Homo sapiens: one gene and its partner. The protein of the gene in region 2 purifies or fractionates together with the protein of the main gene of each other region. This does not show direct contact. Each region holds a gene or a part of one and is shown on either strand. Other genes may lie near its edges.

Region 1 (3,655 bases), on a different chromosome or scaffold from region 2:
TAGTTTCATAGGATATATCCATTGCTACGTCGTACCCAGAAATGGGGTAATAATATGTTAGTTGCCACCCCACAAGCATGGGATAAGCTAGAATTATACCTACAAGTTCGGAACCTGTATTTTAATTATTAGAGGATAAGATGTAAGAGTTCCTCTTCTAGATACCTTTCTTCCCCTGGTTCTATGACCCATTTTTTTTATCCTAAATAATACAGAAAATGGTCGTGTTTGCATTATGATCATCATACTATTTTTCATGGCATTTGTCATTAAAAAATCACTGTTTTGCCAGAACATGGCAGGCATTTCCATAGTAGCCCAAAAATATTAGATTTTTTCATAGTCATATTTTTAAGAAAGAAAATATATTTTTATTGTAATAAAATATGCTTAGCATAAAATTTACCATCTTAACTTTTTTTTTTTTTTTTGAGACAGAGTCTTGCTCTGTTGCCAGGCTGGAGTGCAGTGGTGCGATCCCTGCTCACTGCAACCTCTGTCTCCCAGGTTCAAGCAATTCTCCTGCATCAGTCTCCCAAGTAGCTGGCACTACAGGCACGCACCACCACGCCCAGCTAATTTTTGTACTTTTACTAGAGACGGGTTTTCACCATGTTGGCCAGGATGGTCTCGATCTTTTGACCTCATGATCCGCCCACCTTGGCCTCCCAAAGTGCTGGGATTACAGGCATGAGCCACTGTGCCCGGCCCATGTTAACCATTTTTAAGTGTATAGTTCAGTATTGTTAAGTACTTGACATTGTTGTAAAGAACTCTTAATCTTGCAAAACTGAAACTAAACCCACTAAACAACAGCTCCTCATCCCCACTCTTCCAGCCTCTGGCAACCACCACTCTACTTTCTGTCTCTCTGAATTCATCTACTCTAGGTCCCTCATGTACATGGAATTAATAGTCATATTTAAAGTTAGCTTTCCTAATAATATAGTATCTTTGGTAATATAAACTCAGCTTCTTACAATAAAATATATAGTTGGAGTATATTTTATAGTTTTGTTAAACTAAAGAAAAACAGAAGGTGGAACTCCTTAAGAGCCTTGTTTTTTCTCTTTCTAATGCTGAGTATGTAACTATATATTCCTCTACATATAAGCCCAAGCCTTTTTTTCCAGAATTCACCTCCATCCATACCATCTCCACATACTATACTAGAAGGTGGACCAGTGTTTGCAGTCTGACCATCCTGTCTTTGAATTTAAATGGTGTCTTAATCTATACAGCCAAGAATATCCCTCTGCTCAGGTTTAAGTATAGGTGGTAATGTATATTTATCTTAAATTTTTTTTTTTTTTTTGAGACGGAGTCTCTCTCTTTCGCCCAGGCTGGAGTGCAGTGGCGTGATGTTGGCTCACTCACTGCGAGCTCTGCCTCCCGGGTTCAAGCCATTCTCCTGCCTCAGCCTCCCGAGTAGCTGGGACTACAGGCGCCCGCCACCACACCCAGCTAATTTTTTAGTATTTTTAGTGGAGACGGGGTTTCACCACGTTGGCCAGGATGGTCTCAATCTCCTGACCTCGTGATCTGCCCGCCTCGGCCTCCCAAAGTGGTGAAATTATAGGCGTGAGCCACTGCGCCTGGCCTATTTCTCTTAATTTTTTAAGTTCACTTGATCAATTTAGGCCTACAGTAACAGTGCATTTTTTAATCTAAGGCTCTTTTGCCAGGTAGGCTGTTTGGGTACTAACATGGAAGCTTACATGTATATCTCTAGAGAAGAAGTATTAAACTTTTAGATTTAGAGTGCAGAGTACAAAAATAGAAATGAAGATTTGTTTGAGATGTTAAAGATACGTTACTTGATAGGGAGTACTTAAAGTCATTTAGAGTCAAATAGATTCTGCAGATATTCTCACTGTTTTGATTTTGTAATAGTCAGGACAGGCTAACCATTCACTTTATTAAGACCATGCATATATCCCCAGAACTAGTTCTTTCCTGAGGTCTAGTTTTATAAATGTTGCTGATAAACCAGGTCTGTAAAATTGGAAAAGGAAAAAAAAAGTTTAGAAACAAAAGAATAGAGTCAAATACATAGATGTACATAAATCTGTGAGGCTTTCATAGTTTTTTAAATAAAGCATCTTTTGACTGGACCAATTAATTTGTTTCCTTCCCCTTCTGTATAAAGCTTAACATTACCATAATTTTTGTGCATTATAATGTAACTGTACTATACCTAAAAATTGCTTTTGCCTTGAAAAGCTTAGTAATAACCTTGTTTATCAAGTATACATATATATGTGTGTAGCAGTAAGAGTAAAATATCATTTACAACTTTAGCTTATAAATAGGGCATCTTTGTATATAATGAATACATAGGTACATGGTGATTTGGCTCATTTTGCTGTTTTATGTATATTTGTTTTGAGAGACGGGAGATTGTTTTGTAGAAAAGAATGGTATTTGAGACCGGGCACGGTGGCTCACGCCTGTAATCCCAGCACTTTGGGAGGCCAAGACGGGCGGATCACGAGATCAGGGGAGACCAGCCTGGCCAACATGGTGAAACCCCGTCTCTACTAAAGATACAAATATTAGCCAGGCGTGGTGGCACACGCCTGTAATCTCAGCTACTCGGGAGGCTGAAGCAGGAGAATCGCTTGAACTTGGGAGGCAGAGGTTGCAGTGAGCCAAGATCTCGCCATTGCACTCTAGCCTGGGCGACAGGGCAAGACTTCATCTCAAAAAAAAAAAAAGAGAGAGAAAAGAATGGTATTTGAATTATCACTGAGATGAGCAGTATGAGAATTGTAGCTTGACATACTTGTGGTTTATGCTATGCTTTCTTATAACAGAATGTTAAGTACTTAGGCTTAAGTGGGGGCCTTTAAAAAATAATTTTTGGCTGGGTGCAGTGGCTCGTGCCTGTAATCCCAGCACTTCGGGAGGCTGAGGCAGGATGACTACCTGAGCTCAGGAGTTTGAGACCAGCCTGGGCAACACCAGGAGACCCTGTCTCTACAAAAAATGAAAAAAAATTAGCCAGCATGCGTCTGTAGTCCCAGCTACTCAGGAGGCTGAGGCAGGCGGATTACTTGGGCCCAGTAGGTCAAGGTTGCAGTGAGCCATGATTGTGTCACTGCTCTCCAGCCTAGGCGACAGAGTGACACCCTGTCTCAAAAAATTAATTAAATAATTTTCTTTTTTTTTCTTTTCTTTTTTTTTTTTGAGATGGAGTTTCACTTTTGTTGCCCAGGCTGGAGTGCAATGGAGGTATCTCGGCTCACCACAACCTCTGACCCCTGGGTTCAAGTGATTCTCCTACCTCAGCTTCCCAAGTAGCAGGGATTACAGGCATGCACCACCACGCTTGGCTAATTTTGTGTTTTTAGTAGAGACAAGGTTTCTCTATGTTGGTTAGGCTGATCTCAAACTCCCAACCTCAGATGATCCACCAGCCTTGGCCTCCCAAAGTGCTGGGATTACAGGTGTGAGCCACCACGTCCAGCAATTAAATAATTTTCAAAGTGCTAGTTCAGTTCTGTTTATGAAAGAGAAATGTGTGTTCTGATGTCTTAGAAAAATCCTACAGTTTTATGATTTTAATTAGAGTCTCTTCTTTCTACAGAAATAGGAAGGTTGTTGATTACTCACAGTTTCAGGAATCTGATGATGCAGGTAAGTTTTGTGGTTT
Region 2 (3,655 bases):
TAATTCATGTGTTCCAGATGCTATTTCTTTTTTTTTTTTTTTTTTTTGAGACGGAGTCTCGCTCTGTCGCCCAGGCTGGACTGCGGACTGCAGTGGCGCAATCTCGGCTCACTGCAAGCTCCGCTTCCCGGGTTCACGCCATTCTCCTGCCTCAGCCTCCCCAGTAGCTGGGACTACAGGCGCCCGCCACCGCGCCCGGCTAATTTTTTGTATTTTTAGTAGAGACGGGGTTTCACCTTGTTAGCCAGGATGGTCTCGATCTCCTGACCTCATGATCCACCCGCCTCGGCCTCCCAAAGTGCTGGGATTACAGGCGTGAGCCACCGCGCCCGGCCTGCTATTTCTAACTCAGATAAAAGATGATAAGAGTTTTTACTTCATTTTAAAATTTACATTTGTATTTTTCCTCAACATGTAAAATGTGGTTCTAACAATAAGATTATTGAATTGCAAAATCTGGGGCAGGAACTATTGTATTATATTAGAAGATTGGAGGGTTACAAATACAAATGCCTAAAGGGGCCAGACAGCCAAATGAATATATCAGGCCTGTTATGAAAATCATCCGGGAATGGTGGGGATTAATAAGCCAGAGAGCATATATCCCATCTAAAGGAGGCATCTGTGACTTGATTCTAGCTGATTTTTGCCAAGAGGGAATATGGGCATGGTACTGCTTGGTTTTTTCATTTTTAAAAAGAAGACGTAATCCCTGCACTTTGGGAGGCCAAGGCAGGCAGATCATGAGGTCAGGAGATGGAGACCATCCTGGCTAACACGGTGAAACCCCGTCTCTACTAAAAATGTAAAAAATTAGTTGGGCATGGTGGCACGCGCCTGTAGTCCCAGCTACTTGGGAGGCTGAGGCGGGAGAATTGCTTGAACCTGGTAGGTGGAGGTTGCAGTGAGCTGAAATCGTGCCACTGCACTCCAGCTGGGGCAACAGAGCAAGACTCCATCTCAAAAAAGAAAAAAAAGAAGATGTAAATCCAAATATTTTATGTGAAATTATTTAGCTTTTAAATATTGACAATACTATTGACAAACTAAGTCAAAGTTTTAAAAAGGACTTTTGGACCAAACAATGATTTCTTCCATAGGTTATTAGTTTGTAACCTCTTGTGAGAAAGATCTAAGGATTTTCCAGACCTCAGACAATCTGAAAAATATATTGGGAAAGAGTATGAGAAAGGGAACTTAATCATCTTGGTTTTGCTGATCATGATTACATTTATTTATCTGACTTTTATTTTTTAGCCTTAAAAATTAAAATAGCCCTATTGACCATTAATTTTGCTTTTTATTTCTTTTTGCACATTCAAAATAGGAACTTACAATGTCTCAGAAAAATGGTGGGAATGTTCTTCAGATGATGTATGAGAAACCTGAACGATGGTCTTTTACCTTCCAAACATATGCCTGTCTCAGTCGAATAAGAGCTCAGCTTGCCTCTCTGAATGGCAAGCTCAAAGATGCAGAGAAACCTGTATTATTTTTTGAACGATCTGTGTATAGTGACAGGTATGTATAAATGGCTTGTACGTGGCCATTTGAAGTTTTTATCTTAGAACTGGACTTTTTTTTTTTTTTTAATGTTTCCTGGGAATTAGTAATAATGAATGGCTGAGCTGGGGATTTAAGATGGAAAATGACATTTAAATCCCTCAGCAGTCTGGTACTAATGGCATTAGGGAAGTTATTGCATTTATAATCCTCAGCTTCCATAGAAACTGTTGGGAATATGGTGGTGCCCATTTCATTTAAATTTGCAGAGAAGTTGTTTTTCCCTCTAACCCTTTTAAAATTCTCATCTGCTCTGGTTAAATCTGGATCTATATCCTAGACTCTTACCTGGATCAAGAAGATAAAAGTCTCTAAGGGGCCTTAGAATTGCCCTACTTATGCTAGGATTCTTTTGACCTCCAAAGTTAGCTCAGAACAGAGGTTCTCAAACATTTGATCTCAGGGCCCTTTTCAATTCTTAATAACTATCGAGGTGTCCAAAGAGCATGTCCTATTGATACTTAACATTACTAGAAATTAAGATGCACAAAAATGATTTAAAATTAGCAATAATAAATTCATTACATATTAATATAAATACATTTGACAAAAAGTTATATTTTCTAAAATAAAAAGTAGCTAGAAGAATATCATTGCTTTACATTTTTGCAGATATCTTTAATGCCTCACTTATTAAAAGACAGCTGGATTTTTATTTATGCTTCTGTATTTAATCTGTTATGGTATGTTTGTTTGTTTGAAGTATATTGGTATATGAAGTAATCTGGCCTCTCACAGAACCCCTTAGAAGATCTTGGGGACTTAATGGGGTCCTCACTCCGTATTTTGAGAACCATTGGCCAAAAACATGATGGAAAGACTCTTGTCTTTTTCTGCTTTCCACGGCACTATGTGCCACTGGATTTAGGAGAATGTTTCATGTTCCTGTTCTCTTTTTTATTTCTTTGTTGTTTTTTTTTGAAATGATACATGTGTTGATGAAGACTCTCTTTTAGGTATATTTTTGCATCTAATTTGTATGAATCTGAATGCATGAATGAGACAGAGTGGACAATTTATCAAGACTGGCATGACTGGATGAATAACCAATTTGGCCAAAGCCTTGAATTGGATGGAATCATTTATCTTCAAGCCACTCCAGAGGTAAAACCCAATAAAAATGTGTTTCACTGAAAATTTAAAGAAATATTTAGAACTCTTTTCAGTGGTATATAATGAGGGCAATTTAGTTTAACTCCAGCCTCCCAACCTCCCACTCCCCACCTCTAAATTAGAAACTTGTAACTGTGTAGATAGAAGCATTCTTTTTTCTCAGCAAACTGGAATCCCAGACTGGGCAAGTTGCTGTTTTAGGCTCTTTGTGCTTCCTCAATTCTTTTTTATTTTACTCATTATTTCTTTCTAACATTTGCAGACTCTTCTCATTCATCACAGTTAAAGTAATGAATGTGGTCAAGCAACTCCTAGAATATAGGCTTCATGAGGTGGGACCTTGGGCATTTTGATTACTATTGAATTTCCATTGCCTAGAACACCCAGTGCTGGGCACTGTTGGAGCATATAGTAGGAGCTCAGTAAATATTTACTGAATGAATGGCAATGTTGATGGAGGTCCATATCAAGAAATATTTTATTATGGTTGTTTGTGCCTTGGAATGAGTGGATAATGGCAGCTATCGTTGGGAAAAGACTTAGAGGACCCTTGCCATTTTCCATTAAGGGAGCTCACTTGAAAAGGTGCTTTTTGTGATAGGTTGTAACATAGCTATTCTAGTTACATATGATGTTATATAATGAATACAGGATGACCAAATAGATGCCTTTCATAAAACTAACCTAAATATTAAGATCTTACATTTAATCAGAAGCTTTCTGGTTTTGGTGCGTGCATTTCTATTGTTTCTGTTTTTTAATTCTCATTTTTTCCTTAAGTCACAGGGTAGGCACTGATGAATGTAAATGTTATGACTTCTGGCCTAAAATTAGAATACTGTGTTGCTGTCGAAGCTGGGTTTTCAAAGAAATTAGGTTTCCTATTCCAACGGATGATTTTGTTCTTCATTAAGTAAAGATTTTGTTCTTCATTAAGCAAGGATTTAGCAATTTTTTAGCAATTTCAAAAGTGAATTTT

The links. Proteins that work in one complex are often made in the same cells at the same time.
Region 1: the proteins of DCK (region 2) and NUCKS1 fractionate together in Homo sapiens (co-fractionation; one large-scale study listed by BioGRID). This does not show direct contact.

The regions. Positions count from the first base shown.
Region 1 is NC_000001.11:205,729,556-205,733,210, reverse strand, and holds part of NUCKS1 (nuclear ubiquitous casein and cyclin-dependent kinase substrate 1), read left to right. Parts: intron 1-1,858; exon of another isoform or gene 1,859-1,990; intron 1,991-3,589; coding exon 3,590-3,639; intron 3,640-3,655.
Region 2 is NC_000004.12:71,021,040-71,024,694, forward strand, and holds part of DCK (deoxycytidine kinase), read left to right. Parts: intron 1-1,327; coding exon 1,328-1,521; intron 1,522-2,519; coding exon 2,520-2,667; intron 2,668-3,655. UniProt on the Homo sapiens protein: Phosphorylates the deoxyribonucleosides deoxycytidine, deoxyguanosine and deoxyadenosine. Has broad substrate specificity, and does not display selectivity based on the chirality of the substrate.